Homo sapiens: one gene and its partners. The protein of the gene in region 1 purifies or fractionates together with the protein of each later gene. This does not show direct contact. Each region holds a gene or a part of one and is shown in the gene's direction. Other genes may lie near its edges. The genes, in order: WDR76, HADHA, NCAPH, PURA, NOP58, SPIN1 and MYH10.

Evidence for each region.
Region 2: the proteins of WDR76 (region 1) and HADHA purify together in Homo sapiens (affinity purification with mass spectrometry, with the first as the bait; 2 studies listed by BioGRID). This does not show direct contact.
Region 3: the proteins of WDR76 (region 1) and NCAPH purify together in Homo sapiens (affinity purification with mass spectrometry, with the first as the bait; 2 studies listed by BioGRID). This does not show direct contact.
Region 4: the proteins of WDR76 (region 1) and PURA purify together in Homo sapiens (affinity purification with mass spectrometry, with the first as the bait; 2 studies listed by BioGRID). This does not show direct contact.
Region 5: the proteins of WDR76 (region 1) and NOP58 purify together in Homo sapiens (affinity purification with mass spectrometry, with the first as the bait; 2 studies listed by BioGRID). This does not show direct contact.
Region 6: the proteins of WDR76 (region 1) and SPIN1 purify together in Homo sapiens (affinity purification with mass spectrometry; 2 studies listed by BioGRID and IntAct, with this or other methods). This does not show direct contact.
Region 7: the proteins of WDR76 (region 1) and MYH10 purify together in Homo sapiens (affinity purification with mass spectrometry, with the first as the bait; 2 studies listed by BioGRID). This does not show direct contact.

The regions. Positions count from the first base shown.
Region 1 is NC_000015.10:43,833,391-43,837,450, forward strand, and holds part of WDR76 (WD repeat-containing protein 76), read left to right. Parts: intron 1-1,670; coding exon 1,671-1,760; intron 1,761-2,770; coding exon 2,771-2,826; intron 2,827-4,060. UniProt on the Homo sapiens protein: Specifically binds 5-hydroxymethylcytosine (5hmC), suggesting that it acts as a specific reader of 5hmC.
Region 2 is NC_000002.12:26,227,510-26,231,569, reverse strand, and holds part of HADHA (trifunctional enzyme subunit alpha, mitochondrial precursor), read left to right. Parts: intron 1-1,275; coding exon 1,276-1,378; intron 1,379-4,060. UniProt on the Homo sapiens protein: Mitochondrial trifunctional enzyme catalyzes the last three of the four reactions of the mitochondrial beta-oxidation pathway.
Region 3 is NC_000002.12:96,363,086-96,367,145, forward strand, and holds part of NCAPH (condensin complex subunit 2), read left to right. Parts: intron 1-1,395; coding exon 1,396-1,506; intron 1,507-2,790; coding exon 2,791-2,973; intron 2,974-4,060. UniProt on the Homo sapiens protein: Regulatory subunit of the condensin complex, a complex required for conversion of interphase chromatin into mitotic-like condense chromosomes.
Region 4 is NC_000005.10:140,117,151-140,121,210, forward strand, and holds part of PURA (transcriptional activator protein Pur-alpha), read left to right. Parts: 3' UTR 1-4,060. UniProt on the Homo sapiens protein: This is a probable transcription activator that specifically binds the purine-rich single strand of the PUR element located upstream of the MYC gene. May play a role in the initiation of DNA replication and in recombination.
Region 5 is NC_000002.12:202,300,150-202,304,209, forward strand, and holds the end of NOP58 (nucleolar protein 58), read left to right. Parts: intron 1-84; coding exon 85-218; intron 219-2,771; coding exon 2,772-2,908; intron 2,909-3,236; coding exon 3,237-3,287; 3' UTR 3,288-3,512; downstream 3,513-4,060. UniProt on the Homo sapiens protein: Required for the biogenesis of box C/D snoRNAs such as U3, U8 and U14 snoRNAs. Part of the small subunit (SSU) processome, first precursor of the small eukaryotic ribosomal subunit.
Region 6 is NC_000009.12:88,390,956-88,395,015, forward strand, and holds part of SPIN1 (spindlin-1), read left to right. Parts: intron 1-4,060. UniProt on the Homo sapiens protein: Chromatin reader that specifically recognizes and binds histone H3 both trimethylated at 'Lys-4' and 'Lys-9' (H3K4me3K9me3) and is involved in piRNA-mediated retrotransposon silencing during spermatogenesis.
Region 7 is NC_000017.11:8,620,530-8,624,589, reverse strand, and holds part of MYH10 (myosin-10), read left to right. Parts: intron 1-1,312; 5' UTR 1,313-1,343; coding exon 1,344-1,688; intron 1,689-4,060. UniProt on the Homo sapiens protein: Cellular myosin that appears to play a role in cytokinesis, cell shape, and specialized functions such as secretion and capping. Involved with LARP6 in the stabilization of type I collagen mRNAs for CO1A1 and CO1A2.

The DNA.
Region 1 (4,060 bases):
TCACTGCAAGCTCCGCCTCCCGGGTTCATGCCATTCTCCTGCCTCAGCCTCCTGTGTAGCTGGGACTACAGGCGCCCACCACCATGCCCGGCTAATTTTTTGTATTTTTTAGTAGAGATGGGCTTTCACTGTGTTAGCTAGGATGGTCTCGATCTCCTGACCTTGTGATCTGCCTGCCTCTGCCTCCCAAAGTGCTGGGATTACAGGCGTGAGCCACTGCTCCCAGCCCTTTCTTTTTTTTTTTTGTTTGTTTGTTTTTTGAGACGGAGTCTTGCTCTGTGGCCCAGGCTGGATGGAGTGCAGTGGCATGATCTGGGTTCACTGCAACCTCCATCTCCCGGGTTCAAGCAATTCTTCTGTCTCAGCCTCCCGAGTAGCTGGGACTACAGGCGTGTGTCACCACACCCGGCTAATTTTTGTATTTTTAGTAGAGACTGGGTTTTGCCATGCTGGCCAGGATGGTCCTGATTTCCTGACCTGGTGATCTGCCTGCCTCGGCCTCTCAAAGTGCTAGGATTACAGGCGTGAGCCACCACACCCGGCCTGCCATTTATATTATTTTTTAATAATTGATTCTCTTCCAATTTCTCAGCAGTTTCTCGAACAATGAATTGGATATTGGACCTCTAAGACTGAGTATTTTTTTGTCTTTTCTGTTCATGTGTTTATCTTTTTGTTCTACTTTCTAAATTTAAGCCTTTTCATGGATTTAAAAACTATTGAGTTCTTATTTTTTGAATTTTCTTTTCTTACAGTATTTTGCTATTTCCTGAATATACTGCCTTATATCTCAGGGTTTTAAAAAATTAGCTTACTGTTACATTAGTGGCTTTTTAGGAGAAAGTAGAGACATGTACTTACTCACTCTACTGCGTTTAAGGGAAGTTTTTTTGTTGGAAAAAAATAACTTTTTTTTTTTTTTTTTTTGAGACGGAGTTTCGCTCTTATTGTCCAGGCTAGAGTGCAATGGTGCGATCTCGGCTTGCTGCAACCCCCACCTCCCAGGTTCAAGCGATTTTCCTGCCCCGGCCTCCTGAGTAGCTGGGATTACAGGCTCCTGCCACTATACCTGGCTAATTTTTTTTTTTTTTTTGTATTTTTAGTTGAGACAGGATTTCACCATGTTGGCCAGGCTGGTCTCGAACTCCTGACTTCAGGTGATCTGCCCACTTCGGCCTCCCAAAGTGCTGGGATTACAGGTGTGAGCCACCACGTCTGACCAACTTTTATATTTTTAGTAGAGATGAGGTTTCACCATTTTGGCCAGGTTGGTCTTGAACTCCAGACCTCAGGTGTTCCATCCACTTCAGCTTCCCAAATTGATGGGATTACAGGCGTGAGCCACTGCCCCTGGCCAAAAATAACTTTTGTGTAATAGTACAATTAATTGCCACTAGGAAATAATTTGCTACTAGATCATACTACTTGATTTCTAATATCAGATCACTTCTTAACTGGGAAGCCATACAGATATTTTGGGGGTATCCCAAATCCAGACTTACTGAAATATCCAATTCAGCAAACGTCTGTTTTGGTAAGATGATGAAATGAATAGAGATAGTACAATTTGAAGTAAAGTATTCATGTAGAAAATGAAACATGTAGTTTTGTGAAGTGCTTTTCCTGTAGATTATATAAAGTAATGGAATCTTTTTGGTGTAATTTTATAGGATTTTTCGGGATTGTCACCCTACGAAAGGAAGAGACTGAAGAACATATCAGAAAACGCAGACTTTTTTGCTTCTCTTCAGTTGTCTGAGGTTTGTGTGGAGTCTATTTAAAAGCAAGATGCAGGGCCGGGAACAGTGGGTAGCGCCTGTAATCCTGTCACTTGGGGAGGCTGACATGGGAGAATCGCTTGAGGCCAGGAGTTCGAGATCAGCCTGGGTAACATACGGAGACCCGCCCCCCGCCCCCCGCCCCCCACCCCAATCTCTATAAAAAGTAAATTAGTTGAGCATAGTGATGCATGTCTGGAGTCCTAGCTACTGGGGTGGCTGAGGTGGAAGGATGGCTTGAGTTTGGAAAGTCAAGGCTGCCGTGAGCTATGATCATGCCACTGCATTCCAGCTTGGGCAACAGAGCCAGACCCTGTCTCAAAACAGCAACAACAAGAGCCGTAAAACCCAAGATGTCATAACTCCCACCAGGTCAATAACATATCAGGTTTCATAGTGTCATATGAGGGAGGGTAAAATTGGAGCAGGTTTTGTGCTTAATAGGAAGAGGTTACTGTACTCTGTTGATTCTAAGGCATTATTTTTTTTGTCTTTTTTTTTTTTTTTGAGACGGAGTTTTGCTCTTGTTGCCCAGGCTGGAGTGCAATGGCACGATCTTGGCTCACTGCAACCTCTGCCTCCCGGGTTCAAGTGATTCTCCTACCTTAGCTTCCCAAGTAGCTGGGATTACAGGCGCCCGCCACCACGCCTGTAATTTTTGTATTTTTAGTAGGAATGGGGTTTCACCATGTTGGTAAGGCTGGTCTCGAACTGCTGACCTCGGGTGATCTACTTGCCTTGACCTCCCAAAGTGCTGGGATTACAGTTGTGATCCACCATGCCTGGCCTGTCTTTTTTTTTTTTGAGACAGGGTCTCGCTGCGTTGCCCAGGCTGGAGTACAGTGGCGCTGATCATGACTCATGGCCTATCTTAAGGATCTTTAGTTCCTGAATAGACCTTAGTTTAGTGTGGGTATAGTAGCAGATGCTTAATATTTTAAAAGGTAAGATACGTAGTTATAACATTTTTACATGATTTTTATACTTTACAGTCTGCTGCAAGACTCCGTGAAATGATAGAGAAGAGACAGCCTCCTAAATCCAAAAGGTAAAATATCTAGTTTGCAATGCCTGAACCATGATACATTGCTCAACTGTTTTATAATTTGAAAAAAATGGTTTGGTGTGGTAAGCTTAACAGATCATAAAGTGCTATTTAATCTCAGTCCCTCTAGGATCTCTGAGGGAATGCTACCCTTTAATAACTTTACAATTCTCATCTTCATCAAAGGAATATGGAGCAAATAAAATGGAGAGCTGAATTTTGTTTATATTTATTGTTGCTACTAATGAAGGGAAATCTTTATTTCCACTAAATTACTGTCACTTAGAAAACTATTAAAGATTCTTCTACTTACTTTTAATTTTTCTGGCTATCTTTTTGCGTCTCAATTTGTTTTTGCTTTCTTAGTCCTAGAATAAAGGAAAGGAATTAACATTTATTGAATATCTCTGAAACATACTGCAGTGATCTAGCAATTTTGTCCTATATTATCTCATTTAACTCTGACAACCACTGCATGTGGTAGGTAATATATTCATTTTGTGAGTTAGAAATCAGGCTCAAAAGATAAAATTGTTGGCTGGGTGCAGTGGCTCATGCCTATAATCCCAGCACTTTGGGAGGTTGAGTCAGGGGGTCACCTGAGGTCGAGAGTTCAAGACTGGCCTGACCAACATGGAGAAACCCCATCGCTACTAAAAAAAAAAAAAAAATTAAAAATTAGCCGGGTGTGGTGGCACATGTCTGAATCCCAGCTACTCAAGAGGCTAAAGCAGGAGAATCGCTTGAACCCGGGAGGCAGAGGTCATGGTGAGCCAAGATTGCACCATTGCACTCCAGCCTGGGCAATAAGAGTGAGACTCCATCTCACAAAAAAAAAAAAAACAAAAAAAAACAACTATTTGCTGAAAGTCAAAACAGCTTATAAGTGGTAGCTTTAGGATTTGAACTCAAGGGTGTTTAAATTTTGAATTATCTCCATTGCATTTTAGCAGTGCTTACATATAAATGAAGAAACTAAAATCTTGGTATCATTAGCTCATTTGTTTAGTGCCAGTTCCTAATGAAATGTAGCTTCATTTACTTGGTTTGATTCTGTTACAGGACAATTAGCTTGAGAAAAGCTGGACCTTTAATCATGGCCAGGTATTTTCAAGTGTGAAAAGTTACTATAAGAGGAACATCATTAACACTGGAAAAACAGTAGCACTGGTCCTGTTGCCCGCTGATTAGTAGCTTTACATTTGCATTTTTTTATTAGCCAAGATTGGTGATTTCT
Region 2 (4,060 bases), on another chromosome or scaffold:
CATAATACCATCTTAACAGTTTTTCAAAACCATGAGTCATATTAATATTTCATTACAAATATAAGAGGCAGACCTTTTCCCTCATTGTCTGATTTGGATGTTCTCACTGCTGTGTTGTATGGAACCAAAAGAGGCTCAGCAGGCTTTGAATTCCAAGGAGAAGGGAAGGACAGTCAGACCTGGATGCTGCAGAGCAATCTTAATGTCAACTCAAGGGCCCACTGAACCTTATAGCTTCTGGCACTGTAGATTCCTCAGTGAAAACAAGGCTCAACAGAAATACTCTTTGCAGGGAAGTTGATCTCAATTGAGCACAAAAGAAAACAAGGTTTATGGTGTTAATTTTCTAATAATAATAATGTGCTTTCCTTCATAGGAATGTCATAAGGATTTATTGAAAGAATGAATATGCATATATGTGTATCAAAAATATTTGCTGAGTTTCTTTCTTTCTTCTTTTTTTTTTCTTAAACTATAGCTGGTATTTGAATGTTGCTAGAAGCCTTTCTTCTAGTATGCCATATAAGCAGCCCTAGCTGAGTTCTATTTTTGTTAAGCTTAAAATTCTTTTTAAAGACTTTGTCAAAACTATCAGGTTTCTCACAGTCTTCTCTAGTTTCAATATGAGAATTTTATTTTATTTTATTTTTGGGACAGAGTCACTTTTGTTGTTCAGGCTGGAGTACAGTGGCATGATCTCGGCTCACTGCAACCTCTGCCTCCGGATTCAAGCAATTCTTGTGCCTCAGCCTCCCAAGTAGCTGGAATGACAGGTGTGCCCCACCATGCCCAGCTAATTTTTTGTATTTTTAGTAAAGACAGGGTTTCACCATGTCGGGCCAGGCTGGTCTCAAACTCCTAACCTCAGGTGACCCGCCTGCCTTGGCCTCCCAAAGTGCTGGAATTACAGGTGTGAGCCACCGTGCCTGGCCAGAATTTTACATATTATATATATGATAGAAAAAAACCCCTCAGAATAACAGAAATGTACAATTTTAGGAAACATGAAATTCTTTACCTTATTAGTATAAGAATCCTATATATTGAATTAAGAGATAAAGACATTTTTGCTTCAGCTAGAGGTATCTAATCCCCAAAGTTACCCAAGTGTATATCAGTATATTAAATATAACTTATCTATGCTGTTGACAAATAGCATAAACATATGGCTTGACTTTTCTCATTTTAATATTTGTTCATTTGATGATTTGTAAACTATATAATTATCACCCTGATTTTTTTCCCCCTATATTCTCATCCTTGCTTGCCTGTTAGGTGGGTGTGCCTGCTGCTTTGGACATGATGCTGACTGGTAGAAGCATTCGTGCAGACAGGGCAAAGAAAATGGGACTGGTTGACCAACTGGTGGAACCCCTGGGTAAGTGTTAGCACATCTCAGAGTCAGACCTTATAAAGTTACTTATTTTCTTAAAGAGTTAACCTCTTAGGCCAGGCACGGTGGCTCACACCTGTAATCCCAGCACTTTGGGAGGCTGAGGCGGGAAGATCACTTGAGGTCAGGAGTTTGAGACCAGCCTTGCCAACATGGCGAAACCCTGTCTCCACTAAAAATGATTAGCCGGGTGTGGTGGTGCAAACCTGTAGTTCCAGCTACTTGGGAGGCTGAGGCAGGAGGATCGCTTGAACCTGGCGGGGCTGAGGTTGCAGTGAGCCAAGATCATGCCATTGTGCTCCAGCCTGGGCAACAGAGCCAGACTCCCATCTCAAAAGAAAAAACAGTTAACCTCTTGAATATCACAGGAAGCACAGAGAGAAGCTCAAACTCTTAAGAAATGAGTCATTATTCTAAGGAAGGAAGTTTTATAAAATAGCTAATACTAAATCATTTTCAACATCACCCTGATTTTTATTTTGCTTTATAATTAGAACATTAGGAGTACAGAATTCAGTCAAGTCATTATTTTTGGTTCTTAAATTACCTGTATCATTATCCATGCATAACCTTCCTTCAGTTTCTTGTGTCTGTTTTAGTAATATAATAAATGAAACAACCAACCTGAGAATATTAACAATAATTGATATCTACTGATGGGCTACTTCCTCCCATTCAGTTTCTTTGCCTCCCTTTATCCAAAGAAGCCACTATTCTGACTTGTGTGTTCATTACCCTCTTATATTTATTGAAAATCAGCATTATTGAGATATTACTTACATAATAGTAAATGTATTAATTTTGTGTGTGTGTGTGTGTGTGTGTGTGCGCGCGCACACATGTTGGGGTCTCACTCTGTTGCTCAGACTGGAATATGGTGGTGTGAATATAGCTTGTTGCAACCTCAACTTTTTGGGCTCAAATGATCTTCCCACTTGTGCCCCCCGAGTAGCTGAGACCACAGGCATACGCTGCTACACCAGCTAATTTTTTATTTTTTGTAGAAACGAGATCTCACTCTGTTTTCCAGGCTAGTCTCAAACTCCGGGCTCAAGTAATCCTCCTCCCTCAGCCACCCAAAGTGCCGAGATTTACAGGTGTGAGCCACTGTGTCTGGTGAAATTGACCAACTTTTAATGTATAATTTGAGTTTTGAAAATGTATATAGCTGTGTAAACACTGCCACAATCCAAAAATAGCCGTGCATGGTGGCTCACACCTGTAATCATAGCATTTTGGGAGGCTGAGGTGGGAGAATTGCTTGAGGCCTGGAATTCAAGACCAGCCTGGACAACAGAGCAAGATCCTATCTCTTAAAAAAGAATTTTTTTTTTTCAATTAGCTGGGTATCATAGTGTATACCTGTAGTCCCAGCTAGTCAGGAGGCTGAGACAGGAATATTGTTTGAGCCCAGAAGTTCAAGGCTGTAGTGAGCTATGATCACACCACTGCACTCCAGCCTGAGCAACAGAGTGAGATGCCATCTTTTAAACAAAAATTTTTAAACATTTCTGGTATGTAGTTTGTTTTAATCTTCGTTCACTTAGCATAATGCTTTTGAGATGCATCCATACTGTTGCATATATCAGCAGTTTGTCCTTATTGCTGAGTGTTACTCCATTGTAGAAATGTACCATAGTTTGTTTATCCGTTCACCAAATGATGAGCATTTGAGTTGTTTCTAATTTAGGGCTATTCTGAATAAAGCTGCTATGAACATTCATCTTTAAGTCTTTATGTGGGCGTGACTGGGCGTGGTGGCTCAAGCCTCTAATCCCAGCACTTTGGGAGGCTGAGGCAGGCTGATCACCTGAGGTCAGGAATTCAACACCAGCCTGACCAACATGGCGAAACCCCATCTCTACTAAAAATACAAAAATTAGCTGGGTGTAGTGGTGTGCACCTGTGGTCCCAGCTACTTGGGAGGCTAAGGTAGGAGAATCACTTGAACCCAGGAGGTGGAGGTTGCCGTGAGCCAAGATTGTGCCACTGCACTCCAGCCTGGGTGACAGAGCGAGACTCTGTCTCAAAAAAAAAAAAAGTCTTTATGTGGACAAATGTTTCATTTCTGTTGGGTAAGTACTGAAGAGTGGATTGGCTAGTCCATATAACAGATATATATTAGCTTTTGAAAAAAAAAGTTTGGCCTGAGCAACATAGCAAGACTCTGTCTCAACAAAATAAAAAGTTTTAACTAGTTGGGTGTGGTGGCACATGCCTGTAGTCCTGGCTACTAGGGAGGCTGAGGCAGGAGGATTGCTTGAACCCAGGAGTTTGAAGTCACATGGAGCTATGATCAGGCCACTGCACTCCAGCCTGGGTGAGAGAGGGAGACCTTATCTCTGGGAAGAAAAAAAAAAAATTTAGAGATGAGACTTTGAGTCTTGCTCTGTCACCCAGGCTGGCCTCAGACTCCTGGGCTCAAGCAGTCTTCCTGCCTCAGCCTCCCAAGAAGCCGGGATTACGAGGCATATGCCACTAGTATTTGCTAGGTATGTGTTTGCTTTTCTGTCAGACTGTTTTCCCAAAGTGGTTATACTCTTTTGCATTCCCACCAGCAGTGTATGAGAGTTCTAGGTACCAACCACTTTGCATGGTCAATCTTTTTAATTTTAGACATTCTAACAGGAATGTAGTAACAGTTCTTTTTTCTTTTTTTTTTTTTGA
Region 3 (4,060 bases), on another chromosome or scaffold:
CACCACCCACCCTGACAGTCAGTAGCCATCAACATTGAGGCAAGACCCTTTAACAGCAAAAATATTACAACTCACTGAAGGCTGATATGATCATTATAATTTTTTAGCAATGAAATATTTTTAATTAAGGTATGTAAATTGTTTTTTAGACATATACTGTTGCACACTTAATAGACTCCAGCATAGTATAAGCATAACTTTTAAATTTGTGTGACTGGAAGTGCCTGTATTAAACACTGGACATTTGGCTAGGGACACCTGAGAGTGTGCCCAGAGGAGAGTATTCTAAATGAAGATGCAGTTAGAAGTTGTGTCATATGAAGAACAGTGGAAGAAAATGGGGCGTTTCTTAATTCAAGTATTTATTGTTTAGTAGTAGTTTTGGATTTGTTACAAGCACATTGTGGGTTTATTTGAGTTGTTTTTGAGGCACAGAATTATATTAAAATATTCAGTGTGCTCTTGTAAACTGTGCACATCTCCAGTCACATTTCTCCTACTTCAGAGATTTATATATCAAGTAGAAATCACTGGTCTAAGGAAGGACCTGCAAATATTTGAAAGACTGTGATCCATAGGCACTCGTAAAAGAGGAGCCTCATTCCACGAGGCTCTGGAATACAGAATGAGGATGATGGATGTAATTAGAGGGAAGAGCTGGATGTCTCTCCTTGTTGCCATGTAGGGAACAGTGGTTTCCATTCAGGAATGAGACAGGCTGTTAATTAAGGTAATGGGTTTTCCTTTTTTTTTTTAAAGACAGGGTCTCAGGCTGGAGTGCAGTGGTATGAGTATGGCTCAGTGCAGCCTCAACCCCTGGGCTCAAATGATCCTCCTGCCTCAGCCTCCTGAGTAGCTGAGACCACAGGCACACAGCACCATGCCATCTTTTTTTGTAGAGATGGGGTCTCACTGTGTTGCCCAACGCTAGTCTCAAAATTCCTAGGCTCAAGCAGTTCTCCCACCTCAGCCTCTCAAAATGCTGGGATTACAGGTGTGAGTCACCGTGCCTGGCTGGTAATGGGTTTTCTGTCAAAATTGTTCAAGTGCAACAAGGTGACTTTCAGAAAGCTGGAGGGTAGATTTTCCAACTTTTGTTTTTAGTGAAGGAACCCTTTTTCAGGTAAAACTGTGCAGAAGGCCTAATTGCCAGTCACACAGAAATAGAGCTGCTCTGGTTTATTTGGGATTGGTAGAGATGCTGAGCCCTGCTACTCCAGGTTTGCACTGTATAGTGGAAAAGTCTGTTAGACTTAGATGACTTGTGAGGGCCCTTCTGACTCTAAAATTGTATAATTCTAGGAGGAGATTGGGCATAGGAATTAAGATTTACTTCTCTAACCTAGTTCAGTAGCTTTTAACAAAATAGCTTTCTGCATTTATTCTTTCCTTTAGTTACTTAAGATGGCCCAGGGCCATAGGGTAGAGACTGAGCATTATGAAGAAATTGAAGACTATGATTACAACAACCCTAACGACACCTCCAACTTTTGCCCTGGATTACAGGTAAAGGGGGGAAAGGGGCTCTGTCCTCTCTTCTAAGCCAGGGAGTCGTTTTTCTCTGCTTCTCATGTCCCCATTTTATATGGTGGGAGACTGTTGGCAATTTTGAATCCAGTGGAGGTTTTCTGGGTAAAGGGTCTGCCTTCCACCCAGTGCAGGGAGCTGAGCAGAGTCAAGGAAACAGCCTCACCTTGGCCTGCCTTACCTCACATCCTACATGCAGGAAGCAAATGGCCACACTCAAGTGAATGCGTCGACATGTGGATGGGTGTTTAGCCTCTGCTACAAAGTACTAATCTTGGCTGTTGTGGGATTTCAAAGGAATATAAACACTTTGTCCTCTTATGAGCTAATATTTTGGCCAGGTAGACAACCAGATCACACCATATGTGATCTGGTGTGGCAAAAAATAAGTCTTCGGGGTGTATCTCAGATGACCAGATTTCTAGCTGTGAATGCAGTTCTCATATTGCAAGCTTGCTGTGAACTTGTACAAGCCACCCCCCATCTTTAGATCACGGTTTAGACTAAATAATTTCCATATCCCTTCTCTGAGTCTACTGATGAGATGGCTAATACAGGTAACAGAAACTGGAAAAATAGGCTTCATCTGTGTCCCTGTATGTGGAAAGGGGGGAACGAACTGGAAAAAAATGTATTCACCTTATTTTCTTACTTAGGAAGAGAGTTAGGCTGTTATATTTTAGTGAAAATCCAGACTGACCTCTTGACTAGTGCTTCTCAAACTTTAACTTACATACAAATCACCCAGGGAGCCTATTTAAGGACTGATTCCTGACCTGTGTCCCCCCACCCCACCCCCTGCCCGAAGATACTGATACATTCACTCTGGATGTGATCGCAAAAATGACTTTCTCACCTGCTTCTGGGTGGTATGCCTGCTACTGACCAGATGGCCCCAGGAATCTCCTGTGCTTTCCTTGGGTGATATGTTCAGGTCATATCTCCGGTATTTGAGGAATGTTTCTGTAAAATGAAATCCTAAATTTGTTAGAAGCTGAAGGGGGGACATAGTGGCAATTATGGTTATCGAATTCCTTTTAACTCCCGCTCAAAAGGTCTTAGGTTGATAACAGACACCTCTCTAATAGGGTTTACGTGAAACAGGATGATAACTAGAGGCACCTAGAAGTTCATCGTAGTGTAACTCACTGAGTGAACCATCAGATGGTCTCTTCTTGCTTTGTAAACATGGAGTCTATTTCAAGGGTGTTTCTGAGCTCCTCTGCAGCGTCCACCAAACTCGAAGAGCTGTTTCTTGCCCAGGCTGCTGACAGTGATGATGAAGATTTGGATGACTTATTTGTGGGACCTGTTGGGAACTCTGACCTCTCACCTTATCCTTGCCATCCACCTAAGACAGCACAACAGAATGGTGACACTCCAGAAGCCCAAGGATTAGACATCACAACATATGGGGAGTCAAACTTGGTAGCTGAGCCTCAGAAGGTACGGATGAAACAGCTGAGAATTACATTGTTTGCCTGAAATCTATTTAATTGTCTCTTATATGAGAGTCACGCAATCTGAGCTTGATTTCTTTTCTTCTCAGTTTTAACCTGTTGCTCTCCAAGTTTTAAATAGGGTTGTGGGAGTGAGCTGATGCTAATTAGGTTTGTGTGGAACTGACCATCTCTCCAAAGACCTTGATAAGACATGTAACTAGGGAGGAACTGGTCACCCAAATAAGGCATATGAATGAAGGCTGCAGGCAGAGAATATAAATTTATATGCTAATTCAGCAAGGCTAGCTAGCTAGCTGTGTGGCTCTGAAAAATCTTGGCCAAATTCAGTTTGTATTAAATTATCATGTATTAAACATTTATCTCTTCCATACCAGGTGGCAGGCTTTATGCTTGCCTTTATATTTGATTCATTTATCTCTTTTACACTGGAATTCCAGTTAGCCTTAATGTAGATTGCACTGGATTGAAAAGAAATTAGATTTGATATGAGGGACTCTATATAGTGTCCAAAGAGAGCTCTGGGCTGGGCGTGGTGGCTCACGCCTGTAATCCCAGCACTTTGGGAGGCCAAGGCGGGCAGATCACGATGTCAGGAGTTCGAGACCAGCCCGGCCAACATGGTGAAACCCCGTCTTTAATAAAAATACAAAAATTAGCTGGGCATGGTGGCAGGTGCCTGTAATCCCAGCTATTCTAGAGGCTGAGGCAGGAGAGTCATTTGAACCCAGGAGGCAGAGGTTGCAGTAAGCTGAGATCATGCTATTGCACTTCAGCCTGGGCAACAGGTCGAGACTCCGTCTCAAAAAAAAAAAAAAAAAAAAAAAAGAGTTTGAGACCGCGTGGCCAAAATGGTGAAATACCATCTCTACTAAAAATACAAAAATTAGCCAGGTGCCTGTAATCCCAGCTCCATGGGAGGCTGAGGCTGGAGAATCGCTTGAACCCAGGAGGCGGAGGTTGCAGTGAGCTGAGATTGCACCATTGCCATCCAGCCTGGGTGACAAGAGTGAAACTCTGTCTCAAAACAAACAAACAAACAAACAAAACAAGAGAGCTCTGTAGCTCCTTGG
Region 4 (4,060 bases), on another chromosome or scaffold:
TTGTTTGCTTTTAATATTCAATGTTAAATATGAGGTGACCGTACAGTAGTTAGGAGTTTCTTTACTTACAAAATCACTGGAAATGATTAAATTGCTTTTCCCCCTCCCCAGAGGTGCATTTTTCTTATTTCCATATAGTAAAGTTGAGCTTTTACAGTGCATAATGTGACATTTGGAATGCTTATCAACTGCATGTAAACATTAATAACCTGCACTTTTTTGTCTTAAGGTTTGTTGAGCTGTTTTGTTCACTGTACTTTAACTGTGATATGGAAAAGACTGCATTCTCTGTGCTGTTACTAATTAGGAAAGAGAATTGCTTTGATTTTGTCTCTTGTTTACTATAGCTTCTTAAAGTTAAGCCTTGTACTACAGGTTGTTGGAGTACTCCTAGATCACTGTTTCATAGTAGCCAGCAATAAGTAGTGCAAGTCAACAAAAACACAGCAAACTTAGGCAAAGTGTCCTTTCTTTGAGATGCGAGTTCTTTCATGAGGTTTTCTTTAGGGCCAGAGTTACCTAAAGTGAAGCCTTTCTTATCTATAGACTTCAGATTCTGCTTGGAATCCCACCGGCTCAAGAAGCACATGTATTGTGCAATTAATTGTCTTTACACTAAAACAGTTTAATACAATCTAACTACGATTTTGAAACCAGTGTCTGATTTATGGTCAGTGGGTTTAAAAAGAAATCCACATGCAGATCTTTTAAGACTTAAAAAGTGATCATAGAAAAGACTAAGTGACTGTAAAGATGCTCTTTTTTTAAGCATCTCACTTTACCTCCCCAAGCACCCTCCCAAACCTTGTCTTCCCTCTTCTGTTGCATCCTTTCCCTACCCTTCCCTCCCAGGTGCTCGGTACTTTACCTAGTTTCTATATATCAGTGTTTTATGTTGGAATTTTTCCTTGTTTTTATTTTACTAGTTGGTAAACCCTGTTTATGCTGAAACAAATAAGGAAATGGTATATTTGACCATATGTGTTATTCATAGAAGACAGTATGATCAAATGTGCCAAAAACAAGCAAACAAAACTTAATTCCTGAGAAGTATGCCTTATTTTTATTGATCTGCTTTGTCTTACAATTAAGGTCCAAGAGCTTGGTTAAACTGTATTATTTGCCTAAGTATAAAAGAAAACTTGAACTGCATTGCAATATTGACGTTCTTTAAAATGAGAGACACTGTCAAGTAATTTAATCCAGAGATCAGCCACCAGATTTGAAATGCTTATGTATGTGTGTGTGTTTGGAGTTGTTTTTTTCTTTTAAATCACCAAATTTTTTTTAAGCTACTTTTTATTTGTGCCTCCTATTTATCATGCTGATGTTAGAAGCAGCAGTCATCCAGCCACAGAGGGAGCTAAAGTTAACTAACCAGAACTGTAGAAATCATTATACATGCCTTTGACAACAAAGGAAGTTCATAAGAAAAGCCATGTCGGCTTTTCCTCTACTAGATACAGATTGGAGGTAGATGAATATTTGCCAAATGGAAAAAAAGACAATGCTAGTCAGAAAAGACAAACTGTTTTCCAGCTTCTCAAAAAGCCATGGAGAGTAGAAACCAAAACCAACAGGGAAATAAAAAACCTTGAAAGTCTCACTTTCTAGTTGTCCCATGCAGGGGTTGAAATTTGATTCCAAGCGGAAAGTATATTATGTTTTTTCAGGCCTTCACATCTAGAGAGATGGATAACTTCCAATTTGATTTTTCAGGTAATAGAGAAAGCTGCTAGTAATTTTAACCCCTGCCTAAAGAAGACATATACTTCATTTGGGAGCAAATACTTATTGCCTTGAAAAGTAGCACTGTAATAGCCTATGATAATTAGTTGTAGAATAACCTTTATCCCTTTCAAACTATGCAAATTATTAAATAAGTGTAAATTAGGATTCAATTAAAGATAGTTGATTATATTGCAATCAGATGGCATTCACAAACTTAACTGGAGCATATACAAATATATTAGTCTAAGTTTTGTATGCTAACAGAAAGATATAATTTAGCTACCTATTCTAAAAATGGTGAATATTATTAATATTGTATAATAGGAGTGGGAAGACTGCCTCCTTTTTTGAAGAGAGAGATTAAGGATTTTTATAATTGTTTTTCATCAAATTTTAATATTTTTGTCAAATTTTTAGGTATTTAATTTGTAAAACAGTTTGCTTTGTACTGGCATACAGAAAATAGGGTATTGATTTTAAACTTTTTGAAGCCAAGTGATCAAGTACATTTGTAATAAAAGTCAATGGATCTATATCAGTTGTACTCACTGTTTTCATTTCTTATTAATATAGGGATGCTGTACTTTTTCTTAAGGAAAACTGAATTAAATTTGGGTGGAAGGGAGGGGGAAAAGATAAATCCGTTGATAATGAGAATCTGGGTGGGTATCATGGCCCAAGCACTTTATATCATTTTTTAAGTCAGTTAAGATTTGATATATTTTAAAAGATACTATGTCAACTTTTTTCTTCCTATTTTCTTATGTAACTTGACGTTTGGGGGGATTATCTCATTCATTTTTGTTTGTGTGCTTTTAACATTTTGTGTTTTGGCCCTGTTCAAACTTTCTAAACACATTTTTCTTTTATGACATTTTGGGTTATCTGCTAGACCTGGTGACCCCACCATATGGGCATGATTATTTTTATCTTCCACACATGGTTCACCTTCTTGTCTACAATATTCCCACTCATTTTTTCAGGTTATATATACACACACATTTCCAGATAATTTTAGAATGGGGCTATCTGAAATTGATGGTCTAGTAGCTTTCATAGCTCCACAATTCATTTTATTTTACATGTGAACATAATTTTAAGATTTTCTTCACCATAAAAAGTGAGATACCAAGTCTAATGACTTTTTTCCCTTTTTAAAATCTTTTGAGTATCAGAATGAGACCTTGCTATCTATGTAAAAGGATGCTAAAACAAGGGCATCTGTAGCAACTTAGGTTTGGAATAGTTGGTGATGACTCTGAGTATAACATTTATAGTTTATTATCCCTAAATTTGAATATCTTCATAATTTGGAGAGAGATGTATACACACACATACACATATATATGTATATATACATTGTGTGTGTGTATATGTATATAGATACACACATCTCCTTGAGAGTGGAATAAGTAGGAGAGATAATTTATTGGAATTGCTTACATAGATAAATTCACCAAAGTTATTTGTGTAGATTTGTTAAAGTGTATCAATTTTTAAATCACAATATTTCTGTTTTCTTCATTGCATATTAACCAAATTTTGGCCATTCATAAGTATGCTATAAAACTAAAGTGATCACTGCTATTCACGAATTATTATAGAATCTTCTTTGCAGATTTTGTGATATATTAAGAAAAGCTGATTTTAATATTAATATTTAAGAAGTTATTTGATCCTGAAAACCTAAATTTAAGGTATAGGCCATTTGACACGTCCTTTTTGAACAGAAATTTCATTACAGGCTAAGTGAAAATAAGCCAGAATTAGCATGAGTCAGGTAGAATTTCATGATAAAAGAACAACCAGATGAAATAAGAAATAATGATTGGTTTCAAGCCAATGAATCTGCTAAGCTAACTACCAAGTTTTGATGTTGAATGGTCCAGGCAATTTATGTCTTTAGGAAAGCTGAGTGTGGCAAAGGTCACTTGTTAACATTTTTCTTAACAAGAATGTCATAACTACTCATTCATTTTTATTTTGTCCCCACGTTTGGTATTTGTTTTGTTTTGTGTTTTTCCTTCCTGATGTCCTTTGCTTTTGTGGAAGATTGTCCTGTTGATAGGCAGAAACATGGTGGTGATCCTCTATGTAAAATATAGTTGCTTCTTACACATCAGAAGTATTTCACTCATTTTGGAATCACAGGATTTTCATGTTTTCATAAATACACACATTGTTTTGATAATTATTAGCAATTAGCTTATTTTGTAGCATTAGATGGAAAAATGTTTAAGCTAAAGAGTTTAATTTTCTTGATTTTGGTTCCACTTTAATAATTCAAGAGGCCTCCAAGTTCAAGGACCAAGTCCTTCTATTTTAGAAT
Region 5 (4,060 bases), on another chromosome or scaffold:
TAATGGCATTTTCTTTATCTCTTGAGAATTATTTCAATTCCAGATACTTGTTAGAGATTTTCTAAAACTTTTTGGGTCTTTCAGTGAAGTGAAGACTTACGATCCTTCTGGTGACTCCACACTTCCAACCTGTTCTAAAAAACGCAAAATAGAACAGGTAGATAAAGAGGATGAAATTACTGAAAAGAAAGCCAAAAAAGCCAAGATTAAAGTTAAAGGTTAGTTTGAATTTTTTTTTTAACACAACTTATACTCACTTCTTTAGAACTGTGGATTTTGTGAGTCTTAAAAGTACATGCCATCCCACTTTATTATAAAACTGCTCATTGAACGCTAATGGTGTTTTAATAATGCCATTATGTTCTCTGGGAATATGATATTGTTAAATTTATCAGACTGCACAGAGGAAATGTGAGAAGTTTAGTCAAATTAGGTATTTTACTAAGAGTTCCAAAACTTCATTTCTCCTACATGAACTATTTGGAGAATTAAGAGAAAAAAGGAACGTGTTTTCTAAATTGGTTGTTGAAAATTTTTTGTTTTATAGTTAAGAATGAATACAGAATTGATGGAACAGTGATTTTCTTCATTGTTTCTCTTACACGGAGCGGACTGGAAGGAATACATACTGGTAGCCTGCCGTCATAGTTACAATATCTAACAGGTGCTCACCAGTTAACTAGGCTGTCTTGTGAAGTTGATAAGCAGGCGCCCCATTATTAGTTACACCTGGGTTTATTGAACACCTACTAGCAAGTCTAGCAGAAGAGTAAAGCATTAACACAATGATTGCTTTAACTTGGTTTCTAAGTAGCTTAGTGGTCAAAAGTATATGATCTACAAATGTGGATAGTATACTTGATAGAGAAAACAAACAATTTATTTAACTTTTATGCTTCTTTTTATTGAAAAGTAAGGAGATCCCTAAACCCACTAGTAGCATTTGAGGCACCAAACTCTGTCCTTTGTATCCTCAATTGTGTATCCAATAAGCTTTTCCAATTTATTTGTCAATTTTTCATCCCACAATTTCCCCCCTCTTTTTTTACCCCCAAGACAGAATCTTGCTCTGTCACCCATGCTGGAGTGCAGTGGCATGATCTTGGCTCACTGCAACCTCCACCTCCCAGGTTCAAGCAATTTTCCTGCCTCAGCCTCTTGAGTAGCTGTGATTACAGGCACGCACCACCACGCCCAGCTAATTTTTTTATTTTTAGTAGAGACAGGGTTTCACCATGTTGGCCAGCCTGGTCTCAAACTCCTGACCTTGTGATCCACCCACTCCGGCCTCCCAAACTGCTGGGATTACAGGCATGAGCCACCACGCCCAGTCCTCTCCCATTTTCTATATGTGACAATTCCAGTTGCTTTGGCCATCAACCTTGACTTTTTTCTCATAACTCAATCTAGTCTGACAGCAAATCCTCTCAGTTCCACTTGAAAGTATGTAGTAGCCACAGTGGAACCACCACTAGCTTTTTAAATCTAAATTTGTTCCAGCCATACTGGCCTGCTTGCTATTTCCTGAACCTACTATCCATCCACTTATCCCATCTGCCCTCCAAAACGCCTTACGACTTAAGCATCTGCTCTACTCTACCTGGACTATTTTCCCTCAAGATACATGTATCATTCATTCACTCCCTCACCTCTTCTAGGTGTTTGCCGACCATTCTGCCTAAAATGGCCATATATACTGCCCTTTTCCAACATTCCCCTTCCTGCTTTATTTTTATTCTTACCACTTTAATATCTATTATGTAATGTATCATTTATGTCTCCACTCTGCCACTAAAATAAAAAAGATTCATAGGGAAACGAATATTTTTGCCTCTTGTGCCTTGCTCGAATTGTTTAGTACAGAGTCTGACATGAATATTATTTGGTTGCTGAATTGCTGAATTTCTCTCTCTTTTCTTTTTCTTTTTTTTTTCTTTTTTTTTTTTTTTTTTTTTTGAGACAGAGTCTCCCTCTGTCGCCCAGGCTGAAGTGCAGTGGCGTGATCTTGGCTGACTGCAGCCTCCGCCTCCTGGGTTCAAGCAATTCTCGTGCTTCAGCCTCCTGAATAACTGGGATTACAGGCATGCACCACCATGCCTAGCTAACTTTTTTGTATTTTTATTAGATACAGGATTTCACCATGTTGGCCAGGCTGGTCTTGATATCCTGACCTCAAGTGATCCTCCCGCCTCAGCCTCCCAAAGTGCTGAGATTACAGGCGTGAGCCACTGCACCCAGCTGGTCACTGAATGTCTAATGATAGCTATGTGTTGAGTCCTTATTGTAATGTGTGCTAAGCATTATACTTAGTGCTTTCTATGCATCATCTTTTTAAATCAGTAACAGTCCAGTAAGATAAGACATTCTTAAGTTTTATAGATAGGGAGCTTCACCAAGGGTAAATACAATTTTTCAGGGTTGCAGCAGGTAGATTAAACCCAGGCCGTCTGACTTCAGAGTGCAAGCTCTTAACCATTTCTAATATAATTGACTTTCTTCCCAATAATGATTGGAGATCAGATGACCTTTGTTTTAATCCTGATTTTTATACATGACTTCATGATCGTGAGAAGATTGCTCTGAGCTCTATCTATATCATTCGTTAAAGTTAGTGGTAGGCCTTGGAGAACCTTCCCAATTATAAAATAAACAAAACAAACATTGGGTAGTTGATGAGAATGACAGAAAAAAACTAGGACTCAAACGTTTTTGGAAGGAATGAGATCTGATACAGTGTTAATTTGTTGTGCCTTTACACTTACCCTATTCAGTTGAAGAAGAGGAAGAAGAAAAAGTGGCAGAAGAAGAAGAAACATCTGTGAAGAAGAAGAAGAAAAGGGGTAAAAAGAAACACATTAAGGAAGAACCACTTTCTGAGGAAGAACCATGTACCAGCACAGCAATTGCTGTATGTTTGTTTTTAATTATCGGTTTTCACTTGGAGGGGCCAGTTCTCTATATTTCAATCTATTTTCTATATCAGAAATGAGCAGGCATTTTAAAAAATGGTTTTCATTGATGGAGAGGTAAAAGTGAAATGGCTTTGTTGTATTTATATTATAAAAGGCCATTTCCCAAATCTAGAATTTATTACTAAAAATCAAGTTTGCATTGAGGGGAGGAGTATGATTTGCTCAAGCTTACTTTTTTTATAGGTGGGGTTTTTATATTTTCAATGTGATTACTCACCCATACAATTTCAGCTCTTTCAAAGCATTCTTGTTGGCTATTTTCAGAGTCCAGAGAAAAAGAAGAAAAAGAAAAAAAAGAGAGAGAACGAGGATTAACAGAAAGGAATTACGATTATATCACCCGGACACACATCATGCTTAAGATTCAACTGGGAGCATACCAGGGATGCTCTCTAACGTAATCAAGGGAAGGTTCAGTAAGACAAAGTGATTTATCATCTATAACTTCAAACCTATTTGTCTTGACATCAACTCTGTTAACCTTATGTCATCATTTCTTAGAGTCTTTGATATACAAATAAAATTTTCTTTGTATTTTAAGACAATTTTGTGATCTCTTTATATCTTAGGTAGAGAATCTTTGGCTCTTTCTGTAGTTTGCCATGTGATGATTATTGTTTTGATAATTATAACTGAAAAGTGAGAGTTGTTTTGAAATTTAATCTTTTGGAAGTCAGTGATTAAGTGGACCAATTCAAGACCCCACTCTAATGTGTTTCTTTTGCCTTTTTGGACTACTTTTTATTTTCCACCTATAATCTTTCTACCTCTTTATTTAAATAAATATTTGTTTCTTATTCAAATTTTTAAATTAGGTGAGCAAAACTTTTTAGTTCAAAAGGGTGGGAGACAGTATCCCTCCCTTTACTGTTTGCAATTCTAAAAGGCATACCAAAATAATTCTTAAAACCCTGATTTGTTTTTAAAGTAGTCAGCCTGAAGTGACTTTTTTAAAGGTTGTACAAAGTGATCATAAAGAATGGAGAATAGGGAAAAAATAAGAAAAAAAAAAGTGCCAGTTTGTGTATGTCATAGACATCATACTAAAGCCCAATTCAGTAAAAGCTGTTGGTGGATGGAAACTAGAA
Region 6 (4,060 bases), on another chromosome or scaffold:
AGTTCACATTTTTGAAAACCAGAAAATTTAATAATTATGCTCTTGCCAAACTACCCACTGTTTTCTTTATATTCTTGCCCCACAAGTTGCTTTACTTGAACTCTTGGGTTGGGCTTCATCTCACTGACTTCAGGCTTCTAACACACATAGGACACTTAGGACCTACTGGCTCTTTGGGTCACATCAGGGAGGAGAGCTGAAGTATGTTGAAGTTACTCAAATACATTCAAGCTACATAGATCTCTGATAAATTATTGGTGGTATGGTAGAAATGAAAATATACCCAAAAAAATCACAGAACTGTTTATTAAAATTATTGGTATACAGGCTCTTCTAACATAGATTAGCTTTCTCAACCTAATACATAAAATTACCAGCAAGAAAAAAAAAGTACAAGAATGACAGTTTATGGTTGAATTGGCTTGGTGTCATGATTCCCTGTTGTAGCATTCTCAGGCTATCTATGATAACAGAAACTGCAGCCACATTTGAATGGTTCCCTTCTTGATTCATTCTGAACTCTCCCTTTGGCCCAGTGTCTACTAGTTTTTCAAGCCAAGAACATCTGTTGAGTAACAGGTATCTCAATTTTGCCATACTTCCTTTCTGCATAGGTAGCAGCGTTCTTACTTCTACTCCTGAGGCAAGCCATCTCTGATGTCCTGGAAGGTCGTTTCTCTTCTATCCAGTTGTTGGGATGAATCTTCTGGTAGAAGGGAAGGGAATTTGGTACTAGGGTTGAAAGTCACGCTACTGAAGTTCTTTATTGACATCTCTGAGCAGAAGAGAGGCCCGAGTCGTCCTGGGGATTTTCTTCACTGAGCATTTGTGAAGATTCTGGGGTCAAGGTTGGGTTAAACTTTTGTGGTGGGTCCATCCGCGGTCTAGTCAACAGTACTAAGCTCTTCCTGCATCTTTGGGACCCAGCGGGAAGTGATGCCAGCTCTCAAATTGCTACAAGGTATCCTGGAAAGAAATCTATGACCCAGAAAGAGCCTGAAAACCCAAACTCCAGCAAATATTGGTGAAAGAGCCAACCCGCAAAGCCTTTTAAAACCTTGAATTCCTTACCTATAAACTGGGATAAAACCTATGGTGTAAGTCTGTTCTGAGAATTACATGAAATGGATTTATAGAGTTCTCAGTACAGTTCCTGAAATACAGCAGCTGACGCCAGTAGATGTTGATTTCCTTCTCCTTTCTACTTTTGAACTTAGCTGTAGTTATTAGCATTTTTTTAATGTTGAGGTAAACAGTTTCCTTAGTTGTGCATCAGTATTCAGTCCAATTTAATGTTAAATTATGTTTTTACTGGGAGCCTGTTCATGACCTTAAAATTGCCGTAAACCCTTTATAGAACAAGTCGTGTTTGGCTAAATATATAAACACAGATGTATCCTTACAGACTTTATAGTCTGATAGAGGAGATACACATGCATATAATGAGGGAATTCTGTGCTGAAGGTATCTGGGAAGAGAAGGTGATTCCATAGATTATCAGAATGGGAGAAGAAAGACATCTGGATGGAGGGGAAAGCAGGAACAGAGGCATGAGAGGAGTTAAAGAGGCCATCGGGGATTTCAATCCCAGCCAAAAGTTAGCCCCTTGTTACCTGTCTCCTCTCCTCTCCTCTCTTCTCCTTCCTTCCCTCCTTCCTTCCTTCTTTCCTTCCTTCCTTCCTTCCTCCCTCTTTTTCTACCTATCTACCTAGCTACTATTTTCTATCTATCCTCCTTTGTGAGTGTGTTTATGTATAGCAGGGGACGAGAACACCTACCTCATCAGGGGTGAGCTTAAATGAAGTAAAATGTTTCATAGGCTCCTGGTGTACAGTAAATGCCCAGTTGATATTGATGATGATGTCACCACTGCCTACACCACCTGTAGTTTCTTTCCTATGGCTGATCTGTCTAGGGATGAATTTGGGGGCCACCTTTTAAATTCTGCATGTAACATTAAGGTGGTTGGTGTTGAATTTGTAGGCAGAGGGAAACCATTGAAAGCAGGGGCAGGATTGGACCTGTGTTTTAGAACAGTATGAAAGGTGAGTTGGAGGAACCTGCCCATGTAGGATCTTTAATCTCCAGAGTCTAGCCTGTTAGAGAAGCTGGTGAAGTCATTTAAGGCATGGGGTATTGGTCTGAACTCAGAATATTTAATGTTATGTTAAATGTGCTTTTTTTTTTTTTTTTCCTGAAGGGAGGGGAGGAGGAAGAATTTACTCAATGTAAATATTATTTTATCCAAATGGTGAGAGAATACATGAAAAGACTAGTAAGGCATCTTTTTACCATTTGAGATGTTATAGTAGCGTGTTAACAAAATAGGCAATTTTTTTTTTAAAACTAGGTTATATTTCTTTGTAGTTGTTTATGCTTGGGCCTGTCTGCAAATGATTTAACAAATCATATCATATATTTGAATTACTGTTGCTTAACCTGACACAGGCAATAAGGAGAGAAAAGAATGTCCTTTTTCTTGCTTTTGGGTTTTTTTTTTTTTTTTTTTTTTTTTTTTGAGACGGAGTCTCCCTCTGTCACCAGGCTGGAGTGCAGTGGCGCAGTCTCAGCTGACTGCACCCTCCACCTCCCGGGAGTCAAGCGATTCTCCTGCCTCAGCCTCCCGAATAGCTGGGTCTACAGGCATGTGCCACCACACCTAGCTAATTTTTGTATTTTTAGTAGAGACGGGGGTTTCATCATGTTGGCCAGGATGGTCTCGATCTCTTGACATTGTGATCTGCCCGCCTCGGCCTCCCAGAGTGTTGGGATTACAGGCGTCAGCCATCTCTCCAGAGCTGATTTTTTTTGGAGGGAGGGGTTTGAATTACTTTTTTCTTTCTCTCTTTAGCATCATTGTAGACCCATGGATTTTTATGTATCCAATGTGTGTTTTTGGTTTTTTAAATTTTGAGACAGTCTTGCTCTGTCACCCAGGCTGGAGTGCAGTGGTGTGACCTTGGCTTACTACAACCTCCGCCTCCCGGGTTCAAGCTATTCTCCTGGCTCAGCCTCCCAAGCAGCTGGGATTACAGGCGTGCACCACCATGCCTGGCAAATTTTTTGTATTTTTAGTAGAGATGGGGTTTTACCTTGTTGGTCCAGCTGGTCTCAAACTCCCAAGCTCAAGTGATCCTCTCACCTCAGCCTCCCAAAGTGCTGGGATTACAGGTGTGAGCCACCATGTGTGGCTTTATCCAGTGTTTTAATCAAATACTCACTGTTTTTCCTTAGCTTTTCACAACTTGGACATGTTGAGGTCCTTTCAACCTGGTTCTCTTTCCTTTGACATGACACGTAATCTCTGAAGCTTTTCTTGCTTTCTGACACAAGATGTCTAAGGTTCACTTTGTGCTTTTCCTGCCAAATACCTATCAACCGAGTCTTTCAGCTTGCTTTATTGAGGATTAGAATTTAGATACAGAAATCTGGGTGTTATATGTTCTTACTGTTAGAATGCCCATGCTTTTATTGGACAGCCATGGGAAGCATACAGATTTTGATTTTTATATTGGTATTTCCAGTTCGAATTTAACATCACAGAGTTTTTACTATGAGCTTATCCTTTTTTCTCTAACGTTGAAAATTTACATTCTTAGCAACATTAATATAATTGCATTATCTTACAGTATAAATGTAGTTTGAAAATAACACTAATAAGCAACTGTAGCTTTATGTTTGGTTATGGTTTTTTCCTTAAAATATATCCACATAAGCATGTACAGTTGACATTCTAATTTGGAAGGCCATTTGAAAAGATTTTCTCTGATTATGTTATATGTTTGATAATTAATTTGGGTTGTTTGCCTGAAATTCTTCCTTTAAGAATTGCTTTAGTTTTTTATTTAATGTATTTTTTTTTTTTTTTTTTTGAGACAGAGTCTCGCTCTGTCGCCCAGGCTGGAGTCCAGTGGTGCGATCTCGGCTCACTGCAAGCTCCGCCTCCCGGGTTCACGCCATTCTCCTGCCTCAGCCTCCTGAGTAGCTGGGACTACAGGTGCCCGCCACCACGCCCGGCTAATTTTTGTATTTTTAGTAGAGACGGGGTTTCACTATGTTA
Region 7 (4,060 bases), on another chromosome or scaffold:
TTAGACTACTTTATGATTTCCTCTTGCCTACAAAGAACCTCTAGCATTTTTGGCTAGGGGAGTGGAGTGAACAGAGGGGAGAAGTGGGGATTTGATAGAGCAAGAGTAGGTACTCAGTTGGCTTCTTCTGTTGGTTTGAATGAAGTGATGGAAGCCATGCCTATGAAATTTATAATAACCTGGAATTTGGAGTAGCAGCAAAAATGTTTAAGTTGGTATCAAATCCCAAAAAGATCCTGTCAGGCAATCATGATGAGTCACATTAGAAAGATGATGGATGTAAAATCCTGCCATTTGGTCCAGAAAGCCAGTGCACAAGTAGAGGAGGGGACATAGCTTAGCCACAAAGTGATGGAGCTTCCTCTGCTAGCCCTTTGTGAGCCAATGGTAAATGGGTGCTAAATAAAACAACTAGGTCTTGAGATACATTAATTGTAAATGTCACAGAACCAGTACTTTCCTCAATGTGGCTAAGATAGTTGATGGTTCCTTTTTCTTCTGCACTGGTCAGACCATATCTGGGCTATGATGTTTGCTTCTGGGCCACACACTTTAGAGGGAAGACAAGCAGCATGTTGGAGTCTGTTTAGGCGAGAGATCCGGCAGGGGAAGGAGTCTTGGTGAATGAGGGGTGGAGGAGCTGCAGGATGGGAATAGAGGCCTGAACTGCTACCATGACATATTCAAAAGGCTGCCGTGTGAAGCCAAGTTATGCTTGTCTTTTGTGGTCCCAGTTGATCACATTAAGACCTCATGGGGCCATAGAAAAGCTAGAGGGAGACTGATTTGGGTTATTCATAAGAAGAACTTTAAGTCTGTTATCTGAGGGTAGAATGAGAGGCATGTTTTAGATTCTTTAGATTCTTTACTCTTCTGACAATCATGTGTTTTTGTAGCTGTTTCCTTGTGGTCATATTAATTCTGGTACCACTTCATGAACCTTTTATTACCCATCTTTGTTTTCTTTTTTTTTTTCCCTTCTTAACTCCCTGTTTAATTTGTGGTGAGGGTGAAAGAGGAGATAAAGAAAAAAAAGGGTCAACTTGTAACTTTGCCTTTTCTTTTCTTTTCTTTTCTTTTTTTTGCCCTCAGTAACTGAGGGCAAACCCATCAGACAACCAGAGCCATAATTTGTGGTCACCGCTGAAATTTACCTTGGAAACTCGGTTAGTATGGCTGTGAAGAGGTATACCCCAGCTCCTTAACACAGAGTTAATGCTTAATCTAAGGTTTTAAGTTTCTTAGAAAAGAAAAACGTGTACATTCTTTTGTTTCTTAAACATCTAATTTTGCCCTCCTCCTCTTCTCTTAGAGGCAATTGCTTTTGGATCGTTCCATTTACAATGGCGCAGAGAACTGGACTCGAGGATCCAGAGAGGTATCTCTTTGTGGACAGGGCTGTCATCTACAACCCTGCCACTCAAGCTGATTGGACAGCTAAAAAGCTAGTGTGGATTCCATCAGAACGCCATGGTTTTGAGGCAGCTAGTATCAAAGAAGAACGGGGAGATGAAGTTATGGTGGAGTTGGCAGAGAATGGAAAGAAAGCAATGGTCAACAAAGATGATATTCAGAAGATGAACCCACCTAAGTTTTCCAAGGTGGAGGATATGGCAGAATTGACATGCTTGAATGAAGCTTCCGTTTTACATAATCTGAAGGATCGCTACTATTCAGGACTAATCTATGTAAGTATTTCTTCCAAATAATCATGTGAAGTGGTAGCTAGGAATTAATGTAAATTATACATCTTGTCATAATCAAATGAGAATGTGGAATACCCAAACTCTCTGTTTAACATTTCTATTTCTCTTTAAGATAGAAAGATTTGTTGCTTGCTTACCCATGTCTTGCTTTTCTTTGAATCTTAACACATTAAGTTTAAATAATACAGGCTGCAATTACATATAATAAAATGGCATTTGAAGACTTTTGTAGTGGTCTTCTGGAGCATAATAAGGTGGGAGAGAGCATGTAACAGGAAGACCAGAAGGTTTAATAAGGTAAAGAGAGTTGCATTAATTGGACGCAGACAGCAAAACGGTCAAAAATCAAGTGCATACCCAAGAGTAAAGTGGAGGGGCTGTAAGCTGAGAAATTTCTGTGGACAGCATGAACAGCTTCACTGGATGTAGTAGGGAAGTAGGAAAGATGAATGCTGAGGTTTTTAAGAGGAAACAATTAGGGTAAGATTGAGGCTGGCTGGGGTCGTCCTGTGGTTAGCAGCTGACATGAATGTTGGAGTCACCGACTTTGTCACTGACCATGTAGAAGAAGTTATTGAAAATCATAAGGGATAATGTAGAGAGGGATAATGTAGAGAGGAAAAATGTAAGCCAGATACTAAAAGAAAAATCTAAAATGACAAAATAGGTTTGAGGGAATGGTAGACAGAGGTGGCAATGATTTGAAGAAGGTGGCACGTGTGGGACTTAAACTGACGATGAAGGGAAGTAGGAAGAAAAGTTGATGGTCGTGGTTTGAAATCGGAAAAGGGGTGTTGAATTTTACACAAGGAGTGTGCTACTGAAGGTCATGAATAATTCAAAACTTCAGTAAATCAGAGCTAGTTTTCCTACAGAATTAGTTTAAGGAATATTTATTAAGCACCCCCTGTGCTCTAGGTGCTGGGGATAGTACAGTGAAGAAGACAGGCCAGGTCTCTCTGCCTTTCTGAAATGTCCAATGAGGAAATGAAACAAGGCTATGGAGAGAGTAAGTAGGAGAATGGCTTTCTCCAGCGGGTCAGTTAAGGGCTGTTTGTGAAGGTAGCATTTGAGCTGGAGTCTGACTGGTGGGAGGCAGCTAGCCACGAGAAAAGCTGAGAAAAGAATGATTCATTCATGACCTTTGCCAGAGTAGTTTCAACCAAGCCTGATAGATCTCCCTTATTTTCTTCTCTATGAGGTAGGAGAGTAAGAGGCCACAGGGTTGGAACGGTGGCTTGAGGAGAATGGAAAGGCTTAGGAACAACCCTTTTCCAATTTCAGACTAAGCCAGGGATAAGAAAGCGACTGGAGAGTGGCGTTGAGAGTCCAGCTGAGATTGAATAACCACGTGTAGGGTGACCGCAATTTTGCCTGGCTATGTGATTTTGCCAGACCATGGGATTGTCTCAGGTCTGTGAGTGTGGGGGGCTTTGGATCTGCATGGCTTCCACAGTGAGAGGGGGATTCAGTGGCCGTCTTTGGAGTCCTCGTTCGGTAGGAATGGGAGTCTGGGTGGGAGGGGCTGATGGATCAAGGCCTGGAAGTTTTCAGAATGTTGAGGAACAGGGATCATGGGGTGAAGGAGTGAGAAAACTGCAAAATTAAGAGGTTATGGTCAGATTGTAATGTCGACATGTAAGATTTGAGAGGTTGATCAGTTTCAGATGAAGCCCATTGCAATAAATTGTGCAGGTATGGAAATGTGATGTCACCATCAAAAACTGTGCAGTGTGAAGAGGAGCCAGGCTGCTTTTCTGCCAGCCTTCACCTTAATTTCCCACACTGGCAGCTGGAGGTAGCTGCAAAGGGTGCTAAGTAGAAAAGGAATGAAAGAAAGGACAGGTGTTTTTTTGTTGTTTTTGTTTTTGTTTTGCAGCCATTCCACATAATTCAGAGATTTTACAGTTATCTCTTACTGAGTTTGTTGGATTTTTTTCCAACTTAACTCATGGACAACCTGAGTGAACTTCTGAGTTTCTTTTCAAAGCACAGCCTCCTTCTACAGGAGAATCTGAGTTTTTCTCAAAGTCTCAAGGTCACACAGAGGTCGGGGTTTGGGAGGATCATATCTTCAATTAGTTGGGTGGAGAAAGGGTTCTTACCTAAGGTTCTAGTTGGAGAACTTGACTCCAAAGAAGTCTGTGTCGTTAAGAGGATGGGGATGGGGAGAGCCATGCTAGCATTGTGATAAATATGTATTGGGCTTTGGAATTAACCAGCCAGTTGGGATGATCAGTTGAGGTTCAATAATATAGATACTAGAATAATTTGGGTAGAACCTTTTTTGGACATATTTCTATAGATAAGATATAACATAAATTTATTTAAACAAATTAGCTTGCTAACAGGTT